3 separate regions of the Homo sapiens genome follow, and regions 1 and 2 are each linked to region 3. The links come from fine-mapping of genetic effects on gene expression. A gene starts in region 3. Each other region holds a variant in brackets. All regions are shown on one strand. Distances are between the middles of the regions. Region 1 overlaps PACC1 (proton activated chloride channel 1). Region 2 overlaps LINC02608 (long intergenic non-protein coding RNA 2608). Region 3 holds the start of PACC1 (proton activated chloride channel 1).

Region 1 (10,527 bases), 34 kb after region 3:
CCAGATGAAATTGGGAAGGAAAGGTTTTCTAGGCAGAGGAAATTGCACCATGACCTAAAGGGAAGAGACGACATGTTGTACTTGTGCCTCTGGGCACAATTGCAGTTGGTGGGGAAATGTTTCATAGGGTCAGGAGCCCTGGAAGACTGATGGGTGATGAAGCTGTGGACAGAGTAATGGCCAGATGAGAAAAGAACATGCATCGTGCTGTAGAGCCACACTTGCTCCCTTGGGTAACAGGGAACTGTTAGTGGGTTTTAAGATGAAAGAATAACACTAATTTTTTTTTTGTTAGTATGTGAACGCTAGGCCCCCTCCTAAAATCCTGCTAAAATGATTCTCTAAGGAATGAGATAGAACAGACTAGAACATCAATAATAGCTTTGCACGTGAAGAAAGGATATCACCAGTGGACCAGACATTTTGAGGAACTGGTATAAAGCATAAAAAACAGCTTGGGCCAGATTGGTGGAGCAAACAAATTAGAGCAAATCCCTAACCCAAAACAGATGAAGGAGAGACCTGTTGTAGAGGTACAAGCTTTCCTTCCAAACCCCCAGCTTGGAATCAGCACCGTTAGAGAGCAGGGTAGTCATTACTGGACTGCCTGTTGGCTGGGCCAGACACACCCTATACCCTCCCCAGGTATGCAGAGCCGCTGGGGATGGTTGCCTCTGGGTAAAAGACCCTGGAACCATTCTCTACAGAAGCGAAGGGAAGATGATTCTTTGTGTAGGCATAGGAAACAGAGCAGACTTCTACAATGGAAAAGGAGAGAGAACTAAAGGAAAGGACTCTTCCCAGAGTAAAACACACTGGAAAACTCAGTGTGCTTCCACAGAGCATACTTAGCTTTCCCATGCAAGGGAGAGGCCTATTAGAGAAACAGAAATTTACTACTTTGGAAGAAACCAAAACCCAGACCTATACTAGTCAACCTAATCCTTCATTCATAAATAAGAATGGAGAATTAATGGTCACCAGACATTTGCATGAAACCAATGACAGAAAAGGACCAAGATGAACAAATAGAATGGACTCTAGAATAGGGAAGTAGAAGCTAATTAAAACAAAAAGGAAAGCAACTTTTAAACAATTCCAATGTGGAGTTATATGTATAATAGAAGCTCTTTGTCTGGATTCCCAGCTCCCTTCATCTCTCTGTAAAACACGCTAATGAAAACTCGTGGCTGCTTCCGTCCCACTAGGTGCCTATTCTCTGGATGCCCTCCTCTCCTCCCCCAGTTGAAGTGTATGCTTAGGAGGAGTCAGTGAGGGTCATTTCCAAACCTGTGTAGGCCAGTTGCACTTGTTACAATAGTTACATAATTCGACTAAAGAGTGTAAAAACCCTTGAAATAAGGGCACAAAGAGAGAGTTGTTTTTATGGAAATGAAGTTGAATGCAGCTACTGCCCCCAAGTCTGAGTGTTGGTTCATCTCCTCCATCAATTTCTTGAAGTCCACAAGCTATAAACTAACAGAGAAGTTATCTCCTCCCTATCCACCAAGTTTCCTACCCAAACCAGCATATAGCAGTGGAGGAAGAATATGATGAGAGCAGTAGAGCTCCCATTTGGAAAAGGAAGAAGGGGAAGGGCCCGCAGCTCTGCTCTGCAGCAGTGGTGGAACCCTGCAGGGTGGGACCGGTGAGACGCCTTCTTGGCATGAAGTAAGCTCCTTGGTTTGAACCTGTTGCTGCCCTCAGAAAGAGACTCCTGTGTGCTCTGGCCTCGTCCCCTGGGAGCTTCTGCCTTGGTGGTAATGCTCTGTGGCCATATCTGAAGTGGACATTAGAAAATACGCCCTCCCTGGTGGCTGCACAGCTTGTGCCACTCACTTCCTGCTTGTGTGAGCAGCTTTAGGGCTAAACAATTGCAAACTTGGAGGGCGGCTTCTTACCTGCCTCCTGCCACTGCCTATGTTTGCAGTGAGATTTCAGAAATGTGTAGGCTTCTGGCTGTTCGCATCTAATCAAGTTCATGTGAAAGTGACCCCAGTCGAGGGTCTCATCCTGTTGTATTTGTAAAATCTTCGGAATTTTGCTGATTTTCTGGTGCTTTCTTTCATGCTCTCAATTTAATGGTAGTTATTTTTTACCAAATGCTCTGCTCTGGCACAATAAGGTTTGCCACCTTTCCAGCCTGCGGGATCCTTATCTATTTCCTTACTGCCCGCCATTTTCCCACTGCCCAAATGTTTGGCTGTTCCCTCATTTTGATTTTTTTTGCAACCATAAAACACTCCAGCCGGGCGTGGTGGCTCATGCCTGTAATCCAGCACTTTGGGAGGCCGAGGCAGGTGGATCACGAGGTCAGGAGATCGAGACCATCCTGGCTAACATGGTGAAACCCCGTCTCTACTAAAAATAAAAATAAAAAAATCAGGCGTGTGTAGTGGCACGTGCCTGTAGTCCCAGCTACTTGGGAGGGCAAGACAGGAGAATCGCCTGAACCCGGGAGGCGGAGCTTGCAGTGAGCCGAGATCACGCCAGTGCACTCCAGCTTGGGCAACAGAGCGAGACACCGTCTCAAAAAAAAAAAACAAGAACACTCCAGTGTCAGCTAACAAATTGTGTATTAGTCAGAGTATAGGCTAAGCTACCAAATAAAAACAAAACCTGCAAATACAATGGCTGAGATGAGGGAGAAGCCTCCTTCTCTCTCTGAGAACAGTCCTGGCATGCAGGCCGTGTGGCGTAGTGGGCAGTACTGCCTCATAGGATAGTCCAGCCATGACTTTTGTCTTGTCACTGTGCTGTCCCCTGGGCATTGTTCTGGTCCATGTGGGCAGTGTGTGTGTGTGTGTGTGTGTGTGTCACTGTGCTGTCCCCTGGGCATTGTTCTGGTCCATGTGGGCTGTGTGTGTGTGTGTGTGTGTGTGTGTGTGTGTGCAGTGTGTGTGTGTGTGTCTGTGCACATGCCCAGGCCTGGGAAGGTGGAGGGCAAGCAGTTCCCTTTTCAGGAAATGGGGTGGAGTTGAATGAGTCCCCTTTTCTTTCGCACATTAGGAACTTTATCACGTGGCTACATTTGAGGGCAGAGATGAGGCTCCAGCAGGGGGAGTGGATTCTGCTGAAATCTGGGTTGGGAAAGCCATTCTAGTACTAAAGGAAGAAATGGATAATAGAAACCAGGGACAGTGCTTTCTGTTGCACACTTAAAACAAAATGGTACAGAAAGGTTGAAAAATAAATAGATGGACAAAGCTGTCTTGAGAAGATGCAACGAAAACCAGAAGTGACAATATTAATAGTGTGGAATTCCACGTGCAAAAGTTTGCAAGAAGGATGTTTAATATTGATAAGAGGTTCAACTCCATACTCTCCACTAAGACGACTGAACAGTTCCAAAACTTTATGTACAAAACAGCATGACATTTATATATTTTAAGCAAAACCCGTTAGAAGTAAAAAATACCATCACTTTAGAGCACGATTTAAACACCCCTCTCAGAAATTCACAGATCAAATAGACAAAAACTAGAAAGGATAAGAATTGAATAGTGCAGTTAATAAATTTAGAGTATGTATGTGTGTGTATACATGTGGGGGCACAAAACTTTGTAACTGACAGTGTACTCACTCTTTTTCAAATCTCTGTAGAGCATTTATTTATAAAAGTTGATGTAAAAGACATTTTTTTCTAAAATTAATCTATAAATTCAGTTTCTATCACAGTTAAAAGTCCCAGTGAATTTTTTTGTGGAACTAAGCAAGCTAGTCTTAAAGCATACTTAGAACACGTTCAAAAATAACCAAGACAAGTTTGGGGATGGGGAAGAGTAGTAGGGAGAGCACCTTCCCAGATCTCAGAACAGTGGAAAAACCACAGGAATCAAAGTGGCACAGTACTGGACAGAGACAGACAAATGTGTGGGCTCTGCTAGGGCCAGAAGCAGACATAGATATTGGTTCTGCATGGAATTTAGTATAGGATAAAGGAGGGAGGGGAAGAGGCTTCAAAACCTGTCTCTATGCATTGTTTGGGAAGTAGGAGTTAGAGCCCTATTTCACACTATATACAGAGCTTAAAGCCAGGTATATAAAGTATCTAAATGTAAAAAAGATTAAAAAGTGCTATAAAGAAATAGAGGAGAATATTGATATAATTTTGGCTTTCCTCAGCAAGCAAAACCCAAAGCCGTAAAGAAAAGGATTTAAGGTTTTACTACGTTAAATTTAAAGTTTCCATAGGACAAATGACATTGGAAACAAAGTTAAAAGAAAAATGACAGACTGGAAGAAAAGATTGGCACACATAACAGATGAAAGTGATCATCCTTGCTAAATTAAGAGCTTCCATAACTCAAAGAACCAATGAGAAAAGTGGACAGAGGATGAGCTGCATTCAGCTCTGGTTGGGCATCATATGGGGAAAACTCCCCAGGAATGAGCATGAGTCCCAGCCCAGTCCTGTTGTTGGCTAGTGGTCCCTTTGGAGACCACTGGGCAAGGAGCTATGGGCTTTCCAGTCAGTACTTCTGCCCTCAGACCCAGAGGCCTCTGTGTACTCTCCCAGGACTGAGACTCTGTCCTTTTTCTCTCTGCAGAAATCTGCCCTGATTGTCCAGGGGCCCCGGGAAGTGAAAAAGCGGGAGCTGGTCTTCCTCCAGTTCCGCCTGAACAAGAGTAGTGAGGACTTCAGCGCCATTGATTACCTCCTCTTCTCTTCTTTCCAGGAGTTC[CT/T]GCAAAGGTGGGCTTTTAGAGTTCACAGTGGGCTTACTGTCTACTTTTTATCTTATTCCAGCTGTGTATGTCCCAAGGCTAGAGACGGAGGGGTGAGGGCAGGGAAGGGAAGGGGCATTCTCAGATGACCCACTGGCCCAGGAAGGGACCTCATGAGCTTGGCCGGTCCACTCAACATCTTATCACAAAGTTAAGCAAATCTGGTGTGGAGGAGCATGCTGGCTCTCCATGCACATAGTGCTGGCTGGTTCTAGAGAGATCATTTGGTCTCACCATTGCCTGGGGCTGCTGAGGAGTAGGGGAAGTTGCCTTTGATTTGTAAGTCCCTTTGAGAGCAAGTTCTTGTGTGGTTCCTTGGTTTCCCCCACAGTGTGCACAGGAACCACATCTTGCCCTTAGTGCGGGCTTAATGTATGTTTGCCTGAAATACAGTTGGTCCTTGAACAACTTGGGGTTTGGGGTTACCAAACTTAACCACTCCTGCCTATGCAGCCAAAAATTTGTGTATAACTTTTGACCCCCAAAACTACTAACAGCCTACTGTTGACAGAAGCCTTACCAATAACATAAACAACACATATTGCGTGGTTATATATATCATAGACTGTATTCTTACGATAAAGTAAACTAGAGAAAAAAAATGTTATTAAGAAAATCATGGCCAGGTGTGGTGGCTCACACCTGTAATCCTACCACTTTGGGAGGCCAAGGTGGGCGGATCACGAGGTCAGGAGATCGAGACCATCCTGGCTAACATGGTGAAACCCCATCTCTACTAAAAATACAAAAAATTAGCCAGGCGTGGTAGCGGGCACCTGTAGTCCCAGCTACTCAAGAGGTTGAGGCAGGAGAACCGATTGAACCCAGGAGGCAGAGTTTGCAGTGAGCTGAGATTGCGCCACTGCACTCCAGCCTGGGCAACAGAGCGAGACTCCAAAAAAAAAAAAAAGGAAATCATAAGGAAGAGAAAATATACTTACTATTCATTCAGTGGAAGTGATCATTGTAAAGGCCTTCATCCTCATCGCCTTCATGTTGAGTAGGCTGAGGAGGAGGTTTGGTCTTGCTGTCTCAGGAGTGGCAGAGGCAAAAGAAAATCCGCACGTGAGTGGACCCAGCCAGTTCAAACCTGTGTTGTTCAAGGGTCTACTGCATCTCTGGTATGAGGATATAAGCTCTGCCACCTCTCTTAGTCTTCGATTTACAGTGATGAATGTCCCCTGACCATCAGAAAGTTCTTGTCTGCTCCACACACACTGCTTTGGGGTCACACCGTGGAGCCTAGAGGGCAGGAGAATTTTCTTCATGTGCCTGAGTTGAGAGGGACTCAGTTCCTACCAGGTCCTGCTGAGCCCAGAGGCTCCATTCAGAGCAAGCAGGGAGGCAGCTACAGGGGCAGGGAGGCTGCTCCCCAGCTGGACATGCAGCGAGCTGCCTCCATTCCACACCACCACTGCTTTGTTCTTCCACCCCAGAGCTCGGAGCCTCTGCCTTAGCATTTTCCACCCTTTCTGCCACCTAGAATTCCCTCTCCCTTCCCTGCTTCAAGCTGGCCATCTTGCCTTCCTCCTGGAAGACTTTCCCCGGGATCCCACCCCCACTCCACGCTCCTTTCGTGAGCTTCCTCGGTATGCTGCTGCAGTTTTTACTTGTTTTTATGTTCGCTTTGATTTTGCTGCATCTGCACCGTCTTGGGGCTGATGCTGTAGGTGACCCATCTGGCTGAGACCTCCCCAAGGAACCCTCTTCCCCTCTTTGGGCCTTCCATGGGAGCTGACAGGCTGGTGAGGGCTTCCTCAGGCTCTGCTGAAGTCCAGAGTTCTCTGAGGAGCTGTGAGCGCCATGTTCTGGGGAGCTTCTGCCAACTTCATTGCCGACAGCTTTGGTAGCCATCGATAGGAATGATGGGAGGAGGGAGGAAGATTTCTCCCACTGGGAGCTTCAAGGATCATGTTCCTGCCTTGAGGCCAGTGACTACCCCTCCATTTGGAAACCAAATGGAGAGAAAAGAGGGATGGGCCTTGCTTTTGCTGGTGACTGACAGCCCTGTTGAGGCAATCACAATTTGGAGAGGAGGCAGGGAGTGGGCAGCATCCTGGTTGTGCCAGCAAAGAAACCAGCTTGCAGTGGGGGCTTCGACTCCTGCTGCCAGACCTGCATTGACCTGGATCTTCCTTCTCCTTCCTTCCTCCAAGCCCAAACAGGGTAGGCTTCATGCAGGCCTGTGAGAGTGCCTATTCCAGCTGGAAGTTCTCTGGGGGCTTCCGCACCTGGGTCAAGATGTCACTGGTAAAGACCAAGGAGGAGGATGGGCGGGAAGCAGTGGAGTTCCGGCAGGAGGTAGGTGGCTCTGGGTTTGCTTGAAACTGCTGGTGACTTTTCCACATTCGAGTCTGAGGTGGAGGGAAGCTTTGCAGAGAAGGCTCCTTTGAGCAGGGCCTTAAGGGTGAGTAGGCCTTGGTCAGGATGAGAAGGGACTCCCATGGAGGGCTTCATATGCTATGCCAGGGAGTCTGTGTGTGCTTCTGCAGGCAGCGCACATACCGGCCAGTCCTCACGGAATGCATGTGTGGGGCAGAGATCATTGTGGCTTGCAGAGAGGTCAGTAACTCGCCCAGCTGTGTCTGATGTCTTGCATCTAGCAGCACTTTGAGGGGCTGGCAGTGGCCTAGCAGATTGATTATTTGCAGGGAAGAGAGACTAGACACAGTGGTCCCAAGTGTGCATGTTGATCCTTTTCCTAAGGTCCTCTTCAGCTCTCACAGGTGTCACAGCGAGAGATGCCAGGTGTATCTCCTGGCTGCTAGGCCAGTGGGCTGAAAGCTTTTTGATCAGATTTCCCATTAGTAAAAACTTTTTGATCATATACTCCATATACATATAACTCTGCAGGTGATATAACATACTATTATTGTCTTAGTGTTATATACACTTTAAACATTCAAAAATAGAAATGTTAAAAGGATGAGATAAAAATAAATAGTAAAAAAAGCTAGTCTTTTCTTCTTGTATCCCAGTGGCTCGGGATGCTCATCTGGAGCAGAAGGACACACTCCAGTCAACTAGGCCATCACTGGCCAGAAGTTAGGCCGGAGAAGACTGTCTTGGGTTAGTCTTAAACAGGGCCCTGTCATGAGCCCTAGCTCCTCAGACTAGTCCAGGCTGGTTACTTGGAAGAGGCTCAAAGCCAGTTTTCTTCAAGGAAGCAAGGCTATTTTTCCTGCCTTGGGAAGTGACAACCCCTCCTGGTGACTGGACCTTAAAATCTTCCTGTTTTGTAAGATAACTGTCATCTCCCAGATTTTTACCTCCAAATTTGCTCCAAGAAATTCAAGTCCTTTCTTATCTGGCCCCACAGCAGCTCTGAGGAAGGAGACTGTGTTCACTTACCTTACAATTAAGTTCAACCCCATCTACCCTGGATTTTCTGATAGCTCCCACTGTGATCCGAAACCAAAGGGTGAAAACTCTAGTGAACCTGTACATTAAAGAAATTTTAGCATCTTTTATTACTGTCTAAATTGGAAGTCTTTTGTTGGCATTATGAGCTCTTTTGAACAAAACTAAAAAATGTGTTTTAAAATCACATTTTAGAGTTTAGAGTGCTCTCACATAGGTATGCCCCTATACTGTAGTGACGTAGGCATTTTGTTCAGCTTTGTGGGTGGCAAAGCTGAGGCTCAGCTTCGATGATGGATCTGAGCCTCTGGGTGGAGCTGGTTTCTGCCTTTGTTACCTGTCTGCTCTCCGTTACACCACACAGCGTCTTTAGTAATTGACAACCAGATCTCACCAAGCACACCTACTAAGTATTTACAGGGAATGCTCAGCTGTGTGGATCTATGCAGCTGTGCTTTGTCCCTGTAAACTTGAAGGGTTGAAACAAGCGTTGAAAATTCAGAGAAATACTTGATCTGAAAACCAAGTACTTTGAAATTTGGAATTTTTATTGCTTTTAATTGTGAGTCTTACATGGTAGTTTGAATATGGTTTATTTTTAATATTTTATTTTTTTTGGAGACAGAGTCTTGCTCTGTCCCCCAGGCTAGAGTGCAGTGGCACTATTTCGGCTCACTGCAACCTCTGCCTCCCAGATTCAAGCGATTCTCCTGCCTCAGCCTCCTGAGTAGCTGGGATTGCAGGCGCCCACCACTACACCTGGCTAATTTTTGTATTTTCAGTAGAGACAGGGCTTAACCATGTTGACCAGGCTGGTCTCAAACTCCTGACCTCAGGTGATCTGCCTGGCTAGGCCTCACAAAGTGTTGGGATTACAGACGTGAGCCAACATGCCTGGCCTGAATATGGTTTAATTGTGAGTACAGATACCTAGTGACAAATTTCAGTGACAATCCAAAACACCTATTGTAAATCACAGATCCCATTTCCCCAGAGAACTGTGGAAACCAAGGTAAAGCCTTGGCTTTGCTACCAATGTCAGGATCTTGTATATATGAGATTTTTGCCACTCTCTCTCCAAAAAATAGTGTGAGGAGAACCACAGACTATGATCCCCTGCCTACTCTCTCTCCTTTCGCTGGGCACAGGCAAGGGAAGGGCACACAGAGGTGGTAACACTGCTTTCTCTCCTCCACATCTAGACAAGTGTGGTTAACTACATTGACCAGAGGCCAGCTGCCAAAAAAAGTGCTCAATTGTTTTTTGTGGTCTTTGAATGGAAAGATCCTTTCATCCAGAAAGTCCAAGATGTGAGTATTTAAGATTATGATAGTATTATTTAAGATTATGATAGTATTATTTAAGATTATGATAGATGTATTATTTAAGATTATGATGCTGCCCTGAAGTCTTTTGGCTCATTCTTGTAGACTGATAAGTCTACCTACCTGTCCTCATCTTTTTTCATAGCACAAATCAGCTTGTAATTTATATTTATGACATCAATGTTATATATTCTTTGTGTTTGGTCTTGTCTTCATCACTAGACTTTCTCTGTAAAGGAGGGGGACTTTCATTTTGCTCACCATAATTTATCTGGGATATAGTGGAGTGCTTAGTGCAAAGTAGCTGCTTAGTAGTAATGTTCGTTGAATAAATTGAGTAGAAAGCATTAAGTTACCACTATACAGGTTACTGCAGTTGCAAGTTATTCTTTTTCTTAATGGTTCCCTGTAGGATAAATACTACTTGTAGTAAGAACATAATGGTACAAATAAAATATTAACAAAGCATTAATTAATGCCATATTTTAAAAAAATTGATACATAATATACATATTTATGTGGTACATGTAATATTTTGATAAATGCAGACAAAGTCTAATGATCAAAAATCAGGGTAGTTGGGTTATCCATCATCTCAAACATTTATAATTTCCTTGCATTGGGAACATTCTTCTAGCTATTTTGAAATATATAATACATTCTTGTTAACTATAATTGCTCTACTGTATTATCATGTCATCTATCTTACTGTATTTTTGTACCCATTAACCAATTTCTCTTCATCTCCTGCTTCCCCCAACCCTTCCCAGCCTCTGGTAACCACCATTTTACTCGCTACCTCCATGAGACTCATTTTTTTTTAAGCTCCCACATGAGTGAGAACGTGTGGTATTTGTTTTTCTGTGCCTGGCTTATTTCACTTAACATAATGTTCTCCAGTTTCATTCGTTTTGCTGCAAATGACAGGATTTCATTCTTTAATGGCTGAATAATATTCCATTGTGTTTTATATATATATATACACACCACATTTTCCTTATCCATTCATCCTAAGTGTTGATGGATACTTGAGTTGATTCCATATCTTGGCTGTTGTGAATAGTGCTACAGTAAACATGGGAGTGCGGATATCTCTTTGATACACTGATTTCCTTTT
Region 2 (10,527 bases), 140 kb after region 3:
CTCAGCTACTTGGGAGGCTGAGACACGAGAATCACTTGAACCCAGGAGGCAGAGGTTGCAGTGAGCCGAGATAGTGCCACTGCACTCCAACCTGGATGACAGAGGGAGACTCTGTCTCAAAAACAAATAAATAAATAAAATAAAAATGGACAAAAGACCTGAACAGACATTTCTCTAAAGAAGACATAAAAATGGTCAACAGGTGCTGGGCACGGTGGCTTATGCCTGTAATCCCAGCACTTTGGGAGGCTGAGGTGGGTGGATCACCTGAGTTCAGGAGTTCGAGAGCAGCCTGGCCAACATGGTGAAACCCCGTCTCTACTAAAAAAAAATACAAAAAATTAGCCAGGCATTATGGTGGGTCCCTGTAATCCCAGCTACTTGGGAGGCTGAGGCAGGAGAATCGCTTGAACCCGGGAGGCGGAGGTTGCAGTAAGCCAAGATTGCACCATTGCACTCCAGCCTAAGCAACAAGAGTGAAACTCTGTCTCAAAAAAAAAAAAAAAAGGTCAACAGGTATATGAAAATGTACTTGATATCACTATCATCAGGGAAATGCAAATTAAAACCACTAGGAGATATCAGTTCACATCCATAAGGATAGCTATTACCAAAAAGACAATAGGCAACAAATGTTGGCGAGGGTGTAGAGAAAAGGGAACCCTAGTACACAATTGGTGGGAATGTAGATTGGTACAATTATTATGAAAAACAGCATGGAGTTCCTGAAGAAATTCAAAATAGAACTACCTCATGACCCAGCAATCCTTCTAGTGGATGTATATCCAAAGAATATGAAATACCACTGGTAAAGATATGTGCATTCCCAATGTTAAGTGCAGCATTATGCACAATAGGGAATACATGGAAACAACCTAAATGTCCATCAATAGACGAAAATATAAAGAAAATGGTATGTACGTGTGTGTGTATAATGGGATATTATTTATATATATAATATATATATACACATGCATTATATGCATTATACAGACACATTTTATATATATAATATATATATAATGGAATGTTATTCAGCCCTCTAAGAGGAGATCCTGCTATTTGCCACAACATGGATGGACCTAGAGGACATTATGCTAAATGAAATAAGCCAGATACAGAAAAATATTGCATGATCTCATTTATGTGTAGATTTTAAAAAAAAAAAAAAGGAGTTCAAATACACAGAGAATGAAACAGTGGGATGCAGTGAGGAAGAGGAAACAGGGAGGTGTAGGTCAAAGGATACAAAACAGCATGTATGTAAGATGAATAAGTTTAGAGATCTAATGTAGGAGGAAAGTTAATAAAAATTGTATTATATTAGGCGTTTTTTGTTAAATAAGTAGATCATAGCTGCTCTTGTCACAAAAAGGTAACTAAGTAAGAGGGTAGATCTATTAATCTGCTTTACTAGAGTAACCATTTTACTATCTACTTTTCTAGATCTTTTTAAAGAATTCTAATTCCATATTGTCTATCTGGCCATTTTGCAAGCACAAGAACATACTGATATGATTAGACATCATGATTTTCAATTGCTGCCATTTTTGCTTTTTAACTTTAAACTTCTTTTAGTTAAGCTTATTATGATTCACCTCATTTGTTGTGGGCTATTGTACAGGCTATTGTGTTGGTCAACCAGGAGCTTAGACTAGGCCAGTGGCAGTAGAGATGGCTAGACTGGAGATTTATTTTGGACGAGGAGTATATAGGATTTGCAGATAGACTGAATGTGGGCTGTTGATACAGCAGAGGTATTATTAATCCCCGAAAACCTGCTCCTGTATTTATACTTTCTGATTATCACTGAATCATCTTTCCATAACTATGAAATCTTTTGCCCCATCTAAATGGGCTGTAATCATAAATGTTCAATAGCCCCTTGTCTACCCATTTCTTTACCTGTATAGATGAGGAACCAGGACATAGTTTGAAGGGGCTCAACTCATGCCAATATACCCTTGCCCTTGCAGAGTGGGACGAAAGAACCTGATGTTAGCAAACTCTCCACACTTTAATTCAACCCTGCAAACACTTTCCAAGTGCCTTCTGTTTGTCAGGCAATATGCCAGTCACTAGGAATGAAGAGGTAGATAAGGATGGGCCTTAAAATCAATCTAGTGAGGAGGGACAACATAAACAAATGAACAAACAATTATCAGAAATATTTTTTATGGTGTGGCAAAACAGTGAAATATAGGATCTAATTTGGTTTGGAAAGAAAGAGAAAATTTAACAGAAAAAGTAATGTTTGAAACCAGTCTTGAAACAAAACAAAGGCCAGGCATAGTGGCTCTTACCTGTAATCCCAGCACTTTGGGAGGCCAAGGCATGCAGATCACCTGAGGTCAGGAGTTCGAGACCAGCCTGACCAACATGGTAAAACCCGTCTCTGCTAAAAATATAAAAATTATCCGGGCGTGGTGGCATGTGCCTGTAATCCCAGCTACTTGGGAGGCTGAGACAGGAGAATCGCTTGAACCCGGGAGGCGGAGGTTGCAGTGAGCCGAGATCACGCCATTGCACTTCAGCCTGGGCAACAAGAGCAAAACTCCATCTCAAAAAAAAAAAAAAGAAAAGAAAAGAAACAAAACAAAATTATCATATGGAGAAGACCAAAAAAAGAAGAAAAATGCCTGCCATTCAGAAATTAGCTTACCACATTTCTCCATCACTATGAAGATTTCTGTATCTCAATGAATTTACTTATTCCACACAACTATTACCAAAAAGTAAAATTTCATTGCAAGAGGAGAATATATTATGCCACACCTTGTATCAGAATTTGACCTGGAAGTGGATGAGCAAAGAAAAAGTAGAGATTAACTTCAACACATAACTGTCCTCTGGGTATATCATAAAAAGCAATGATTGCAAAAGTACTATATGGTTCCTTCATGTTCCTCTACTATGCATATTTTATGTAAATATATAAGTGGTCTTCTGCTTTCATCCATCTGAAGACAAAAAAAAAAAGGAAATCATTCCAAGCAGTAGGAATATAACTTATAAGGTGCAGAACCCTGAGAGAAGGGGCTACATCTGGAAACCAAAGGAATTTGGTATAAGCTTTCTTCGGTGGGCAGAAGCTGCATCTATTGAGGAGGGCAGAGTGGGTCATGAAGGGCTTTGTGTGCAGTTATTGGGTTTCATCCTCAAGTCAGTGGGGAGACACTGAAGGATTTTAATAAGCAGGAGAGTGGCATGATCAGATTTGCATTCTAGAAAAATTACATTGTTGGCAGTATGGAGGATGAACTGATTACAGAGGGCAAGGCCAGAGAAAGGGAGACCTGTGGGCCAGAAGACAAATAGTAAGACTCTGTGTCAGCATCAAGTAGGTTTTGAGGCAGTCCCTGTCTTAAAATACCTAGCTGCTGAATGTCAGCAATGTATTCTCTCTCATTGGCTTACTATTTTGGATCAAATTACTTTGAAAATCCTACAAACTCACTGTTATCTTCTATGTAAGGTGTTGTCTACAATTTGATAATACTGGTAGTACTAAGAGTTTTTCAGGAATTATTAAATTGGAAATTAATGTTTTCAGACCCTATGCTTTGACTTCTATGCAAACAATATGGCTTTTTCAAAAATTTGTGTGTCTGTAGGTAAGTGTAAATATAATCTTGGCTAGGTGCAGTGTCTCACATCTGTGATCCCAGCACTTTGGGAGGCCAAGGTGGGTGGATCACCTGAGGTCAGGAGTTTGAGACCAGCCTCGGCAACATAGTGAAACCCCACCTCTACTAAAAATACAAAAATTAGCTGGGCGTGGTGGTGGGCACCTGTAGTCCCAGCTACTTGGGAGGCTGAGGCAGGAGAATCACTTGAACCCAGGAGGCGGAGGTTGCAGTGAGCTGAGATCGCACCACTGTACTCCAGCCTGGGGGACAGAGCGAGACTCTGTCTCAAAATAAAACAAACATATCATCTCTACCATAAATTTAACACCTACTATATGCTAGGCACCATTCATATAAAGAATCTGGCAGAAAGAGATCAAATGAGATCCCCCCTTAAAGTCTCTTTCATCTATGTGACACTCCTGTCTTTTCCCTTGGGAGTTTGGTCTTGGTGACTTCTTCCATTTTCAGGAGCAATTTTTTGTATTCTAGCATCTCTGGAGTTCTCCATTCTTATAAAAATCAGTGGAAATTCAAGGCTCTGTTTATTAACTCTGTATAAAAACATTTACAAAAAAATGAAATTAGAATGGATTAGCATAAGATCATTGTTCTTGCCTAGCACTTTAAAAATTTTGTGTTTATGGAACTTTGGAGCCTACTACCTAGAAGGAAAATGAGATTATCAAGAGATGTAATGGTGCTTAATGTTTTCTTTTCATTCACTCAAAAATCATTAATTAACTTCTTATAATGAGCCTGGCCTGTTCCAGGTGCTTGGAGTATAGTGGTAAATGAGACGAAGTCAGCCTGCATGGAGCTTGTCTCCAATGGTGAAAGCTCACATCAATTAAAGTCCAACGGTGGAAACAAAGCAGGGAATATGCACCAGAGGAAACACCATGTGACTACACACACAGACCTTCAAAGCTGCTTAGGAGAACCTCTAGGGTGACCAACTCATCCTGGTTTGCTAGAGACTTTCCCAGTTCTAGTACTGAAAATCCAGTGTCCCAGGAACCCCCTCACTTTTGGGCAAACCAGGATGGTTAGTCACTCTATGAACTAAACACGCAGCAACACATTTATTCAAGGCCTATTATTAGCAAGGCCCATGGCTAAACATTGTGGCCTCTACCCTAAGAGAGCACAAGCTCTAGGGGAGAGATGAGATGAGGCATGCATTCACAAAAAGATAACTTCTCATTCAGAACACTATTTGATGAGAGCCAAGATGGTACATTTGGAGGGAGGTCATAGGTGGTATTTGTGCTCAGGTGGAGAAGACGGAATTCAAGCTTGACCTGGAGGTTCAGGTATAATTACATAAATAGAGAAAAAGATAAGAGATAAGGGAAAGCACTATCCAACTGCTTACTGCATGCCTCTTAAACTCCAAGTTTCCAACTTATTATGTTGACCTCCTCCTCCCCTCTCTGTCTCACTATATTGCTGTCCACCAGTCAACAAAGAGAGAAATGACATCGAG[G/T]TGTGGAAGTGGAAAGAACAAGTATGTAGATGGGAGGTTAAAAGATGTATTGACTGGAGAAGATGCTTTTTGGAGGGAACAGTGGGAGGGAAAGCTGGAAAAGGTACAATTATTTACTTATTCAACAAACGTTCAGTGTTTATTATTGGCCGTTTTCTGGTCTAGGTTCTGGGTATAGAAAGGAAAAAAAATACAATTCCTTCTTTCAGAGAGTCTGGAGAGGGAAAGAAAAAGCCCTCCAAACCCCATACCCACCACAGATAGTCTCATAAATGCTGTAACAGAGGTAAGCACAGAGGAGAAAGTACAGAATCTCTGGCGTGGAGAGCAAGAAAGGCTTTCTAGAGGAAGATGCTCTAGATCTGAGAATTGAAAAACCAGAAGGAATTAGGAAGACAAAAAAAAAAAAAAAGGAAATCATTCCAAGCAGTGGAAATATAACTTATAAGGTGCAGAACCCTGAGAGAAGGGGCTACATCTGGAAACCAAAGGAATTTGGTATAAGCTTTCTTCAGTGGGCAGAAGCTGTGTGTCTATTAAGGAGGGCAGAGTGGGTCATGAAGGGCTTTGTGTGCAGTTATTGGGCATTATCCTCAAGTCAGTGGGGAGACACTGAAGGATTTTAATAAGCAGGAGAGTGGCATGATCAGATTTGCATTCTAGAAAAATTACACTGTTGGCAGTGTGGAGGATGAACTCATTACAGAGGGCAAGGCCAGAGAAAGGGAGACCTGTGGGCCAGAAGACAAATAGTAAGACTCTGTGTCAGGCATCTGAGATGGAATGGCAAGATCAGACTCAGGAGATATTGTAAATAAATAAAATGACTTAGTGACTTATTGGGCATGGATAAGGGTATGGGACACAGAAGAGGAAAGGGTGATTCCCAGGTATCCAGACTGAGTGACTGGTGGGCAGCAATGCCATGTAGTGAGACAGGGAAGGGAGGAAGAGGTGGACGTAATAAGTTGGACACTTTGAGAATAAGCAGTTGGATAGTACAGGCTTGCAGGAAAGAGATCTGTACTGAAGGTAGAGATCTGGTAGTCATCAGTATACAGATAGGAGATGGAACTCTAAGAATACCCTTGTTCTCCTGGGTGGAGTGTATAGAATAAGGAAAGAGGGTGAGAAAACCCCTGGGGTTGCTGGGCGCAGTGGCTCACGCCTGTAACCCCAGCACTTTGGGAGGCCGAGGTGGGTGCATCATGAGGTCAGGAGATCGAGACCATCCTGGCTAACATGGTGAAACCCCGTCTCTACTAAAAAATACAAAAAAATTAGCCAGGCATGGTGGCGGGCACCTGTAGTCCCAGCTACTCAGGAGGCTGAGGCAGGAGAATGGTGTGAACCCGGGAGGCAGAGCTTGCAGTGAGCCGAGATCGCGCCACTGCACTCCAGCCTGGGTGACAGAGTGAGACTCCATCCCCCCCAAAACAAAACAAAACAAAACAAAACAAAAAAAAAACCCTGGGGTACCCTTACTTGAGGACACTGCAGAGAAAGAAGATAGTATCAGATTATGGAGTGTCAGCAAGTTTGGACCTGATTCTGAAGTCAGTGGGGAGATGCTGGAGACTATTTGAATAGAAGATGTCATGTTGAAGTAGTGTTTTAAGATCACCAGGTGAAGGCAATGGAAGCCAAAGAGATTGGCTGGAGATGATTACAGGTGTCCAGGCAGCCAGGGCTTGAATGAGTGGTGCTAAGCAGTGTGTGTCAGTGGCACCCATGGAGCTTTTCCAAGCTATAACTTCCTGGCCCCCCAGTGGACATGAGAATCTTGGGGTAGAAGAGGCAAAACGTGTAGTTTCAAAAAAATCCCAAGTGATACTCCAGTCCCCTCCCCCTATCCTATCCTCCATTTCTTGGTGATGAGTGGCTTGAACTAAAAATGGCCTTAGGAATAGATGTGAGAGATACTACAAAAGAATACTACACTGGAAAGATTTGACTAAAGGTGGAGGAGGGAGGTGGCAAGTCAAAGAGGAAAATTACAAATGATGCCAAGGTTTTGAATTGGGTGACCAAATAAATTGGGGGCCTTTAACAAAAGTCCAGTAGCTGATCCAGTTTTCTTTTGTGGGAGGAGGTAGAGAGGGGTGTCAGAGGAAGGAAGGGAAAGAGAAGCAAACATTGAGTCTGAGGTTAGAAATGTTGAGTTAAAAGAGCTTTTTAAGGTCGTTGAAGCTGAAGAGCTGGATCTTTATTTTTAAAAAGAGGTGATGACATGTTGTATATTAATTTGGAGAAAGAAGACGACTAGAATGGGCTGACAGCCTAGTGTAGGCCAAAGCAAAGAAGGAAATTACACAAACAACACAAGCCTCTTTTTCCTCTTTAAGGAAAAAAAATCATGACAGAAACAAATGGGCAAAAGATGGCCTGTCATGTGCCTCTGCATTCTCCAGTGCCAAACAGTCAGTAGAACTGCACAGGAGAGGACCAGGCCCAGGGCAACCCCTTGTATCTGCTGTGGCTGTGGGCCAAAGATCAGGAACAATGCAGCCGTCACTCTGGGCTCACCATGTGCACACACACAAGACACACACACACACACTCACCCTGCATTCTAAATTCTTAACCACCTTCTAAGCAAAACTATACCTAGATCTTTTTTATGATGCCTTTATAGAGGAAGAAAAAAATCAATTTACCAACTGAACACCTCCTCCTAGTTTCAGGCAAGATCTGTGCAAAGTCTTCCAGCTTTCCCAACTTCTTGATTAGTTAAGGCCTCTTCTTACACTCAGCAGATAAGTCCCACTCCGTCACGCTGAATTACAGTGATTGTTTCTCAGCTTACTTTGGGTCAAGGATATGGGCTAGGACTGGAGAATGACCTTAGCCCTTCAGACTGAAAGATGCAATTTCAGTCCTTATACACATTGGGCATGTTTCAGTGTGAATTATTTGCATAGTGGCCTTAAGAGAGAAAGTACTACATCAATCCAATGATTTAATACAGCACTATATCCTTCTGGGTGCTAGGGAAGCAAAGTTGAGGAGGACACAGATTGTGCTCTCTTGGAGTTTACAGTTTCATGATGAAGAAAAGTCAAGCACACAGAGAATCACTGTATAATTCAAGAAGAGAAAAGATGTATCAACAAAATGCAATTGGGGCTAAAGGAGGAAAAATAATGTTATGATTGGAGAATGAAGAACAAGGGACACAGAGGAGCAGCTGGAAGGTTAAAATTGACTTTGAAAATTGCACAGAATTTCAGTGGGTAGCTAGGTAGGGGAAAGGAGAAGAACATTCAGGTAAGGGAAACAGCATGAGCAAGGTCACAGAGAGAGGAATATGTGTGGCATATTTGGAGAACAGCAAATAGTTTGGTTTGGCTGCGGTATAGGAAAAAAGTAGGAGATAAAGCTAGGAACATAGGTCGGGGACCTACTGCAGAGGACTTTAAATGCCAGGGTGAGGAGTTTGTACTTAATTCTTCAAGTAATGGGAAGCTATTGAAGACTTTGGGGCAGGACAGCAATTGATTAGACTTTGATCTAAGAGGTTTAATCTCACATCTGTTAACTGGGAGGAAAAGAGGGTAGAAGCTACAGGCAGGGCAAAATTTTAGACATGTGTTTAACATGTCTGTGCACTCTCTGAATAAAGATGCTCATTAACACTTGGAATGAGGGTCTGATATTCAGGAAAAAGGTATGGTTAAGGTTCTTTGTAGCCTTAGTTTCTTTACTCTGAGGACTGTTTTGGTAATCAGAAGATAATGCTTTGAAAAACACTTACAACAGTTCCTGACTCATAATGGGCATGTGAGACAGATGTGATGGTACTTGAGGCGGTGGTAGCATCAGTAGTAGTTGCACAGTTAGTTCTTCCTTGTAACCCTTTTGTTCTTCCCAGAATTCTGCCATGAGTTCAGGCAACAAAACCAAATGGCAAACTCTTGCTGTAGCCAGAATTGCCCTTCTCCTAAGAGGATCATGGCTGTATATTGAGTCAAGCAGTTGTACTGGCTCCTTTTTCTCCCCACCCCCGTAAGATAACCACTCTACTGGGAAAACGCTTAGCCCCTGGCAAAGAGTCCTGTTGAGTGTCTCTTTGTTTTGTCTGTTGCATTCAGACACAGAAGCTCAGAAAAGCTATAACCCTGGATGGAAGAATGAGTGGAGCTAAAAACATGTAAAATACTTTTTATTGTTTAGGGATATATAGTGCATGTAAATGTATGCATGCACACACAATTTTATATATATATGTATATATTCCGAAACATTCCTGTATATATAATGGGAATTGAAAACACCAAATTCGAAAACTGGTTACTTCCTAGAAGGAAGGCAGGAAGGAAAATATAAATGAGAGGGATACACTGAGGGTTTCGGCTATATCTGAATGCTTTTTTTTTTTCAGCTAGATGTTGGATTGATATATGTTTATTATATTATTCTCTACAGTTTGTATGTAGGAAATGATGTGTATGTATAATATATATTTTTTTAATTTTGGAATGAGGAAAGTAGGGTCTATATATTTTAGAAATGATGAGCTTGAGCTGATATTTGGGCACTTACAAAAGGGGAAATTGAATATGGAGCAAGTCTTTTTCAGCATGCACTTGATCCAGCCAGCAGATGACTGCAAAGCCTCATGCACCAAAGTAGGAATCCCCAAAAGGAGCTGAATAATGGAGAGCCTCAAGCACTACCCCCAGAGATTACCCATCACAGGAAAAGTGACACTGAAGTAGCACCAGCAGAGGAAAGCTAGAGGAACAGATGGGTTGCTGTAACAAAACAAGGGAAATGTAATTCCTTAGATGCTTGAGGGGAAAAAGCATAGACTAGGAAGTAATCTGTCAGTAGCAGCAGGGAAGAAAGAAAGAGAAGACACTTGGACTTCTCTGGAAAATACCTGTATTGACTTATCAAGAACAATTCCAGCAGTGCAAAAACTGATTGCTATGAAGAAACTTCAACTTCCAGACATGAAAATTAACTGGAATTTGACTTGCCCTCTCACCGGTAACAACTAGAAAATTGGCCATAATGTATGAAACAGTTGTTTTCATTGGACAATACACAGTGAGGAATTGTGATCCCTGAGAAAAGAGAAAGAAATGAAAAGATCCCTACAATATTCCTGGCTTTCTGCCTGGAGGCACTTTCCAGACCACAAAGAAGGGGACCCAAGTAGACATGACAATCTTGCTATGAGGAGGACAAAAAAGATCAGAGTTTGAGGAGACTGAGGAGGCTGGAATTTGTGAGGCAGAATACCAGAGAAGACAGAGGTATGCAGAGAAAGAGCTCCAGAAATCTTGAGCCCCCTTGAGTCCATGCAACTCCATGACACTGGGCAAAAATAAATAACTAAAAAAACTCTTAGGGAGCTGTAAGCTAAACAATTTCCTGAGCTCCCACTGGGCTGGGAAACATTCT
Region 3 (10,527 bases):
CTGGCTGAAGCTAGGACCACAAAAAGCCTTTGTATCAGGGGCTGGAGCCATGGAAGGGAAACTGTGAGAGGCAGAGAACAGGGAAAAAAAAGCCCTGGCTTCTCCCTTGCCCTGACTCCTGAAAATGCCTCCTGCTAAGGTATACATGTAAATGATTGCCAGCCATTATTCTAGAGGTCACAAGACATTGCAACTTCCCCAATTACTCCTGCAGATAACGTCACTATCGTAGAACCTCAGCTTGGCTTTTTGAAATGTCTTTTCGGGTTTTTTGCATGTCCGACACTGATGGCTCCACCTGGACCCACCAATCACTCCTGTGGCCCCCACCCAGCAGTGACTAAGTGCACTGGAGGACCATTTCCCACACCCCTGTGATTGCAACCCCAACCAATCAATAGCAAGCACCCACCCCTATCCTATCCCACAAACTACCTTTGAAAACCCCTGGCCCCCAAATGCTTGGGGAGATTGATTTGTGTAATAACTCTGTCTCCCTGTGGCCTCAGTCAGTTAAACTCTTTCTTTACTGCAATGCCATGGTCTCAGTGAATTGATATTGTCTATACAGCAGGCAGGAAGAACCCATCAGGTGGTTACACTACATGCCCCTAGTGGTCCTCTCCACTGACACTGCCTTCTGCTTGGCTTCAGCCTAGGGCCTGTGTACTGTACCTGTGCCTTCTGCCTGTACCCGCACAGACCATCATGTGCTAGTCCCTTCTTGTCATTTAGGTCTCAACTCAAAAGTAACTGCCATCAGGAGGCCTCTCTTGACATCCCCCAGATATATTAGCATCCTACCACCCTGGCCCATGTCTTCCACCTTTTTATAAGGACGAGTCATATTGGACTGAGAGATCACCTTACTCCAATATGACCTCATCCTAGTTACATCTGCAATGACCCTATTTCCATCTAAGGTCACATTCTGAGGTACTGAGGTCTAGGTCCTCAACATATTTTGGGGGAACACAAGTCAATTATAGCAGGAATCTTTAGGGTATAGATGATAATTCAAGCCATGAGGCTAGAGGTGACCACTTCACTAGCCCCTACGGAGTGAATAGAAAGGAGGTGGAAAATCTAGCTTTGGGGCTGGGCGTGGTGGTTCTCGCCTATAATTCCCCCAGCACTTTGGGAGGCTGAGGTAGACAGATCACTTGAGGTCAGGAGATTGAGACCAGCCTGGCCAACATGACGAAACCCCGTCTCTACTAAAAATATGAAAATTTTAGCCAGGCATGGTGGCAGGCACCTGTAATCCCAGCTATTTGGAAGGCTGAGGCAGGAGAATCACTTGAGCCCGGGAGGCAGAGGTTACAGTGAACCAAGATTGCCGCACTGCACTCCACCCTGGGTGACAGAGCGAGACTCCATCTAAAAAAAACCAAAACAACAACAACAAACCTAGCTTTGGGAAAGTCCGCCCTGTAGAGCTGAGATGAGGAGAAGTCAGCAGAGAGGCTGAGAAAGAGCAGTAACTGTAACTGTAATAGGCCTGTTGCCTGATGTGTGCAGCAAGTCAATATGCCAAGACGGAGTTGCAGTAGAAAAAGAGGCTTACCAATAGGGCCTCCAATCGAGGAGATGGAGGGGAACCTCAAACCCTCTCTCAAGGAGTTTGCGGCTTTTCTAAGGGTTTTTAAGGAGTAGGCTGAAGTGTGGAGACTGCTGATTGGCCAAAGGGAACAGGGTGAAATCATTGGACAGAGAGAGAAGCAGCTGTATTCTCATGCTGATTCCATTCCTCTGTTGGTGTCTTCAAACTTGTTGGTGTCAGCTGTTTCACTGGAATTTGTGATCTGAAAAACATTTTAAGCAATTTTTTTTTTTGAGACAGAATTTTGCTATTGTCGCCCAGGCTGGAGTGCAATGGTGTGATCTTGGCTCACTGCAACCTCTGCCTCCCGGGTTCAAGCGATTCTCCTGCCTCAGCCTCCTGAGTAGGGAGGCTAGGGAGGCTGGGATTATAGGTGCCCGCCACCATGCCTGGTTAATTTTTGTATTTTTAGTAAAGATGAAGTTTTACCATGTTGGCCAGGCTGGTCTCGAACTCCTGACCTCAGGCAATCCGCCCGCCTCGGCCTCCTAAAGAGTTGGGATTACAGGCGTGAGCCACTGGGCCTGGCCTTAAACAATTCTTAAGCAAAAGCCTTATGATTCCAATGTCAGAAATCCTACCTGTAGGAGCAGTGGAGATGCAAATGGTCAGTATCTAGTGCTACATGACTTTTGGCTACAAGGAAGTGGGTCAAATTACAGCCTGATTAATGCTTAATTATAACTCTATTTCTGTGCAGAATTCGTGTTAACCCTGTGAGGATGGCTTCAAAGTGAGGTAGGAGCAAGCCGGGAGTGTGTGGTGTCCTGGAAGCCAGGGAGGAACGCGTATCAAGGAGGAGGGAGGATCAGCCAAGTCCACTGTGGCTGATAAATCAAGAAAGAGGAGGATGGGAAAATGGCCATCTGATGTGACAACACTGAGGTCACTTGTGACCTTGACAAGCACTGTTCCAGTGGAGTGGAGGGGAGTAAAGCCTGACTGGTGTGTGCTCATGAAGGAATGGGAGAGAGGACTTGGGGGCTGCAAGGACAGAACATTATTTACATGTTTATGATCTGTCTCTCCACAGTTGCATGAAAGAGCCACGAAAGCCAGGACCCAAGGGTATCTTATCCATTTCTGTATCCCAGTGCCCAGCACATTGTATTTGTTAAGCCATATTTTATATTTTATTAGCCAGTATCTCCTTCAAATGTGGGAGCCCATAATTTTCCAGTTTGGTCACACCAACAAAGACTAGAGAGGAATGACAGGGTTGGAATAGAATTCTCTGGTTCCTTCCAGCTCTAATATTCTATGATGGTGTGAACTTGTTCTATCAAGTACCATTGTATTAACACAGTAAGGAATTTAATTAGTGGTCTGCTATTGTTAATTTGTTTTGGTAAGCAACTGTTAAATGAAATGGCTGGAATCAGTGTTCCATTCATAAATTTAACAAACATTTGTCGAGTGCCTACAATGTGTTAGGCACTATATATATTGTCCCATATAACAGATTTAAGAGCAGAGGGCCTAGGATAGGGGTGAGTGGTCAGGAGAGGTGATGGGGACCTCCCATTGCTAATGCTCCAGGAGGTCCAGGGTTCTTTGATGTGGCTGGCACTATTCTGCTTATCACTGAGGAGAGAAGAGGCTCCCAGTGGCCTGAGTGGAGGGGTTACCAAGCTGCAGCTGCAAGGGACACAGAGCAGCATTCACCAAGGCACAACAAGCAGCCTCTATCTGCTTCACCACTGAGGAGCCGAGGGCCCTCACACAACAGCTGTTTCAGGCAGTGGGAGGAGAGGAAGATGTGGTCTTCAGGTCCACCCTGCCACAGGGCCAACACCAGATTTGACGCCACATCTAGCGCTTGAGGCTTCTTCTGTGGCTGAACAGCGGCTTTAGGCTTTCTCTGCACGATCCTTCCTTTCTGCTTTCATAGGCCTTGTCAGGCAGGGCAGGGTTTAGCAGTTGCATTCTAAGGCGAGGAGAGGAGGGCTCAGAGCATTGCAAGACCTAAAGGGGAGGGTCAGAGCCAGGACAAGAACCTAGGGGTACTCCTGCCCCTGGAATAATGGAGAGAACATGGGCTCCGCAGTCTACCCCTGGATGAAATAATCTTCATTTGATTACCGCTCCACCCGCATCCTTTCTGAAACAAAGTACCTCAGTTTCCTCATTTGTAAATTAGGGAGAAAAATGTCCTTCTTACAGGGTTCCTTGCAGAATCAACGGCATAATGTGAGTGAGAGCGCTTTGTAACTAACATACAAAGTGCTCTCCAGACATTTATTACCGTTTTAAACCGCCAGGCCAAGCTTCCTCTTGCAATTATAGATTAGGGGCTCCTACTCATCTGACTTTGTTCCACTTTCCACTCCTCTTCTCCGTCCCTCCCCCTCCAACAAAGAGAGGAAGTGAGAGACGCAGAGGCACGCGTCTAAGGACCAGCTTAGCTGGCCCAGGGTCACATGCAGGCCTCCGCCACAGGGGTGAGAGCTGGTGTGAGGGGCGCCCCCGCCCAGAACTACATTTCCCATCAACACTTTCGCGACTCCTGGGCGGCAGCGGCCAGGCGCATGCGCCGAGTATCGCCACGCCTGGTCTCTGGGACGCCCCTCCGGACCGGTTTCGCCTCGCGGAGCCGGTAGGTCCAGGTGCAGCGGCCGCAGTGCTGCGTCCGTGCGCCGCGGGCTGGGGCGGTCTCAGGTGTGCCGAAGCTCTGGTCAGTGCCATGATCCGGCAGGAGCGCTCCACATCCTACCAGGAGGTACGAGGTTGTGAGAGACGGAAGGGAAGTTTGAGGCGGAGGAGCAGGGTCCCGGGGGCCTGGGCGGATGCGGGGCGGGGGGTGTCGGGGCTGCGCGGCAGAGGGCTCTTCCGAGGGACCGACGGGTGCGTCAGGGGAGGGCTCCCGGGGTGCAGAGGAGCGGCCCAGGGGCAGGAAGGAAGCGGGGCAGCGGAGCGGGCGCCCAGCGTTCTCCGTATGCTGCGGGTTGCATGGCCGAGGTCCGGAGTAGGGTCCCCGGCGCCGCGACCCGTAACCAGCAGGTGAATGATTGAAGCTACCTGAGGCCCAGCCTTCCGCGCTCCCCGCCGGAGCGGCAGCCCAATGGCCCAGAGGAACCCGGCGTTCTTTGCAACAAGTGGAGCGCCCGCGCCCTCCTCCCGGCGAGATCTGATGCGCGGTCGGCATCGTCGGCATCCTCCCCCTCCAAGCCCAAGGCCTCGCTGTCCCCGCGGCTGGTGACAGGATTGATTACCTGTTTTTTGGTGACCACCTAACTTTGAAAAAGTGCCTTCATGGACTCTGCTAGTTCTCGCTCCTCTTCGTCTCTCCCTCCAGTCTCACCTCCTCCCACGACTTTATCACTTTCCAGTTCTTTGTCTCTTCTCTGTCCTGCGCTGCAGGCTGTGCGTCCAGCGCTTCCTTCAAGCAAGCCCTGCCTCCTCACTTCTCCAGCTGTATTAGTGAAACTGCTCTCCTCCTCCGCCTCCACTTCTCGGCCCCCAAACCTTGGTCATCTTTGGCAACCGTCCTCTTCTGTGCCCCTCCATCGTGCCGCCTCATTGGCCAAAGTCAGGCAGTTCCAGGTCGGTCCTCCTCCAGTTTGTGTCCCTGTGTTTGCTGTAACCTCTGAGTGCGATACTGTGTTACCATCGCTCCCTTTAGTCTCTTATACTCTCCAGATTTGCCTTGAGGCCCTGCCTTCACCTCGGAGCATTCCTTTTTTCTCAGACCTGACGCTGCCCTTCGTCTGCCCAGAACAGTCCAGACTTCTCAGCAGGCTCCCAAAGCTCTGAACAGCACAGCAGCCATGTCTCCCATTACCTTTGCCACCTCCTAACCCACCTAGGGTCTGGCACAGTGGAAACTCAGTTTTAAAATGTGCTCCTGCCTCTGTGCGTGTGCTCACTCCATTCCTTCATCAACGCTCCGCCAAGCTCCATTGGGTAAAATGCCCCCAGAAGTCAAGGGCTACCTCAAGTTCCATGTGTTCCATAGGGGTCCGCTTTCCAGACCCGTCTGCATTTCTGTCTGTCCTTCTCATAATGAACTTGCTGCCTTCTGTCTTAGTCAATAGTTACTGCTGTACATATCTCCCTTTGTAAAAGACTGATTCACAGAAGGGCTTTGTGGACTATATAAAGCAGGTGGCTTAGCCCTACAGTGGAGGGAGAAGCCAACTTGAAGGCAGATGAGATTTGCCTAAGGCTTGCCATTTTTTAGTGTAGGATCTTGGCTGGAATCTGGCCTTGGACAGATTTCTATATTTCTCCTCCCATCCCCTTTATTCCATCTGTTTCCTTTGTCTGAAAGGAGTCTGAGGGATTTTAACCAGTGCTGTGGATTCCATGACCCCTAGATTCTGTACCCTAAACAGTGGGGGAATCCTGGGGAATGAGATGTGTCTGAAAGTTTTTAGGTTTATAGGGTGTGGAGCACAGTGGATAAAAGTCAGAAAGCCCACGTTCGTGCCTGGCTGTGCCTCTTGCTGTTTGTGTGACTTTTATTGAGTCACATAACTTTCTGAGCCTCAGTTTCTTTGTCTGAAAGATGAAGATAATAAAAGTCCCTACCTCCCAGGGTTGTTTGGGGATTAGATAAGTTGGTGTGGAAAGCGCTTGGCTCAGTGTCTGGCAAATGGTGACCCCACAGTGAATGATAGCTCTTGTTAACGGTGTGGGCAGCTCCTGCGTCCAGGATGCTTTGGGGTCCTGGCTTAGCAGGAACATGTGCCTCACCATCCACACATAGCCAGCCTAGCAGGGCTTATAAAATGTTTATTAAAATATAGGCACTTACCCCGCTTGGAGGGCCAAGGCCCAGGGTAGACTCAGTTTCTCTTTGGAGGCATCTCCAAAGTGGGAGGCACTGGAAGGGTGCCCTCCCCTTGCCTTCTTCAGAGGCCTGTTCTGGAGTCCCTGTCTCTCACTTCCTCAGAGAATGGGGCCACCCAGAAAATGGCCGGCGTCTTTCTTCCTGAACCATTCTGTGAGTGTACCTAGCTCTGAGTAGGTTTATTTGCTGAGGGGGGATTTTTCCTTGGGGAGGGTGGGATATACTGAGAATTTGGCCAGGGGCAGGCAAGGAGGCAGGCTCATTATGGCTGTGGGTAGTCAGGAAGGGAACCTGGTGGGAGGGTGTTAGCACCTGGGTCAGGGTGAACCTGAGTGAGGCTTGAATCAGGGAACTTTGAGATTTCCCAGGACTAACATCCTCCTCTCCCTTTGGCCAGTGAGACCTCTTTATCTGTGCTCCTGCTAGTGGCTTATATCTCTTGGTGCCTTCACCAGCCTCCCTGCCCTTTCCCACTGGTTGCTTTTCTTTTCTTTCTTTTTTTTTTTTGAGACTGAGTTTCACTCTTGTCACTCAGACTGGAGTGCAATGGTGCGATCTCGGCTCACTACAACCTCCGCCTCCCGGGTTCAAGAGATTCTCCTGCTTCAACCTCCCAAGTAGCTGGGACTACAGGTGTGCGCTATTATGCCCGGCTAATTTTTGTATTTTTAGTAGAGATGGGGTTTCACCATGTTGACCAGGCAGGTCTCGAACTCCTGACCTCAGGCGATCCGCCCACCTCGGCCTCCCAAAGTGCTGGAATTACAGGCATGAGCCACCGTGTCAGGCCCCGCACCTGGCCTTTTCTTTTGTGCTTCGAGGGCTTTAAACTGGAGATTTTGCCTGATTCTAAGGGGCAGGAGTGGAGTCGTGGAGAGGGAGATAGAAGAATAGATTCGTAAGAGATGTTTTTCACTTGTCTCTTGGAGGTGAGTTTTTAATGAAAATGTCTAGAAACCTTAAAACCTTAAACACTGATGCTGTGAACCTGACAAAGTGCTTGGGAAAGCTGTCCCCTCTCCCTCCCAATTCAGGGATGGCTTCTCTTCTAAGCTCTGGTCTTGAGCTCTCTTGCCCTCCTCCTTAATCCTACAGAGACTTGTTGATTATCATGGTATCCTTTCCGTCCTTCTTCCCTTCTCAGTGGTATAATTTTCCCCATTTGACAGGTGAGACCACTGGTGAAGTGAGGTTGAGGTTGCTGGCTACCAGGCTGCTGATTATAATCAGCACCTATCCCTGTGGTGGACTGCCTGCCCTTCCTGCTGTGTTCTGCCATTTGCAGCCCAAGTCAGTGGACTTCAGCCAGAGTGCCAGAGAGAGCTCTGACACCACCTTCACTGTTCCCTCTTTTCTCTCAGCAGACTCTAAGCCGTATTTCCTCTTCCTTTGGGAAGTGGTTAAGACTATGGGCTTTGGAACTAGACCAACTTGGATTTTACTCCTGCCATATCTTTCCCTGGCTTTATGGCCATGGAAAATATTGTGGGTTGAATTGTGTTTCCTTAAAAAAGATATGTTGAAGTCCTAACCCCAGGTACCTCAGATTGTGACCTTGTTTGGAAATGGGGTCATTGCAGGTGTAATTAGTGAAGATGAGGTCATACAGGAGTAGGGTGGGCCCCTAATCCAACATGGCTGGTGTCCTTCAAGACGATGACCATGTGAAGACACAGAGAGAGCACACCTTGTAAAGATGGCAGCGGAGAGTGGAGATTGGATGCCTCTACGAGCCAACGAACTCCAAGGATTGCTGGCTGTCACCAGAAGCCAGGAGAGAGGCATGGAACAGATTTCCTCACCACTCGTAGAAGAAGGAGCCAACCCTGCCAACACCTCAATTTCAGACTTCTAGCCTCCAGAACTGTGAGAGAAGACATTTCCGTTGTTTTAAGCTGTTCGGTTTGTGGTACTTGCTACAGTAGTCCTAGGAACACAGAGAGCAGAAAGTTTATTGAGCTTTCTGAGCTTCGGTGTCCTCATCTGTAAAATTGCTGTAACACACTCTATGTCATGTGGTTTTTGGTGACAATTAAGTGACAAGCAGCTTCTGCTTTCTTATTCTAGTGTAGAAAAGCAAGGCTGACATAGCTGACTTGTCTTTGCTCTCTTTGCTTCTCCCTTTAGCTGAGTGAGGAGTTGGTCCAGGTGGTTGAGAACTCAGAGCTGGCAGACGAGCAGGACAAGGAGACGGTCAGAGTCCAAGGTCCGGGTATCTTACCAGGTGAGTGCGTTTGGTGCTTTGCTGTGCTGTTGCTGCAGCTGGACACCCCAGTCTAGGCGCCTTGCCAACTGTGGGAGAGGAGGAGCCCCCTTCCCTGCACCCTGGTGTCAGGTCTCAAGTATTGCCCTAGTTTTAAAGCCATACATATTTAACCAGCCTTGGAACAGAGGATATGTCTAGGCTGGTATCTGCTCTTAACTCCAATTTGAGCCACTTCCTGAGGTCAGGTCATTGCATACAATGGCAAATGCTTTGGATCTCTGCTCTTCTGTTCCTCTTTCCCTGGAAACTGCTAGCAGGTGAGCCTCTAATATCCGGGTCAAAGAAGATCTAATAGGCCCCCTCTTTCAGATACTAGGCCTGTCCAGTAATGCTGCTCAGTTGGGTAAGCAGGGTCCCATCAGTCAGTTGGCATCTTATGGAGCCCTACGGCAATGTTTGACACTGCTGACTACTTCTTCCGCCCGGATACACGCTGCTCCCTTAGCTTCTGTGATGCAGCATTTCTCAGGCCACTCCTTCCAGGCTCCATTGCGGTCACTCTCCAGCTCTTGGGCATGAAATGTTGGTTGCAGGCCCCTTTCTCTCACTCTCATAGACAGTTCTACCCAGGCCTGCTCCCTTGCTTCAGCCACTGCTTGCTCACACGTGACTCCCATGTTTACATCTCTAGCCCAGAGGTTACCTACAAACCGCAAATTTATATATCCTGTATTTCCAACTGCCCATGTCATAGTTCTGCTTGGATCTCCCAAAGCTTCCCTCAACTCCACATGTCCAAAATTGACCTCATGATCATCTCAGTCCCAGCTTGGTCCTCTCCCAGTATTTCCTGTTTGCAGGAATGGTACTACCACTTAACGCAGTTGAACTTCAGAGTAGTTCTCCATTCCTTCCTTCCTCTCATCCCCTTTTTCTCTGGCCCTCAGCCATGCTGATCTTTTTTTATTTTAGGCCTCATTCCCTCTCACCACAGGGCCTTTTTGTTGTTTTATTTCTCTGCCTGGAATTCACTTTCCTTCTTCACATAGTTAATGCCTAATCATTCTTCAGCTTTCAGCTCACTCATTTTTTTCCACAGAGCCTTCTCTAACCTTCTGGCCAGATTACCTCCCACCCTCCAGCACCGTCTCATAGTCCACGCGCCTCTCCTTTCCGGCTATTGCTGTTGGAATGGTGCGTTTGTTTGTCTGACTAATGTCTGTCTGTTCTACTACAGCAGTCCCCAACTTTTTGGCACCAGGGACCGGTTTGTGGAAGACAATTTTTCCACAGATGGAGGTTGGGGGATGGTTTCAAGATGAAACTGTTCCACCTCAGATTATCAGACATAGTTAGATTTTCATAAGGAGCACACAACCTAGATCCCTTGTATGTGCAGCTTACAATAGGATTTGCACTCCTATGAGAATCTAATGCTGCAGCTGATCTGACAGGAGGTGGAGCTCAGGTGGTAATGCTCACTCACTGCTCACCTCCTACTGTATTGGCCCAGTTCCTAACAGGCCATGGACCCGTATTGGTCTGTGGCCTGGGGGTTGGGGACCCCTGTTCTACTAGAATGAAACTCCCTGAGGGCAGAGACCAGTCTGTTTTGCTCACCAGCCTAGCCTTGACCACGCCATAAAGATTTGTTGAGTGAATGAATGAAGCCCCAGCCTGACTTCAACTTCTTGGATGGATCCCATCTGTTTGTGGGAGAGGGGAACAAGACAGGAACTAATGTGGTTCTGCCTGCTCCTTACAGAAGACTGCATGGAAGGGACCGGGCACGGTGGCTCATGCCTGTAATGCCAGCACTTTGGGAGGCTGAGGCAGGTGGATCACCTGAGGTCAGGAGTTCAAGACCAGCCTGGCCAACATGGTGAAACCCTGTCTCTACTAAAAAATACAAAAATTAGCCAGGTG

The links. PIP is the estimated chance that this variant, and not a neighbour inherited with it, causes the effect.
Region 1: its variant is fine-mapped to the expression of PACC1 in whole blood (TOPMed, PIP above 0.99).
Region 2: its variant is fine-mapped to the expression of PACC1 in cerebellar hemisphere (GTEx, PIP 0.90).

Annotation. Positions count from the first base shown.
Region 1 is chr1:212,374,061-212,384,587 of GRCh38, reverse strand. PACC1 (proton activated chloride channel 1) reads left to right here. Exons shown (of 8, transcript NM_018252.3): 5 at 4,551-4,693; 6 at 6,882-7,026; 7 at 9,288-9,395. Among named protein-coding and RNA genes, the nearest start is that of SNORA16B, 27 kb to the right of the region's middle. The variant CT/T (reference allele first, on the strand shown) is at 4,686.
Region 2 is chr1:212,269,376-212,279,902 of GRCh38, reverse strand. The region is part of intron 1 of LINC02608 (long intergenic non-protein coding RNA 2608); the gene reads left to right. Among named protein-coding and RNA genes, the nearest start is that of LINC02608, 10 kb to the left of the region's middle. The variant G/T (reference allele first, on the strand shown) is at 5,119.
Region 3 is chr1:212,408,517-212,419,043 of GRCh38, reverse strand. It overlaps PACC1 (proton activated chloride channel 1), which reads left to right and starts at 4,158. Exons shown (of 8, transcript NM_018252.3): 1 at 4,158-4,322; 2 at 8,523-8,619. The coding sequence starts at 4,287. RefSeq lists a silencer at 4,447-4,506.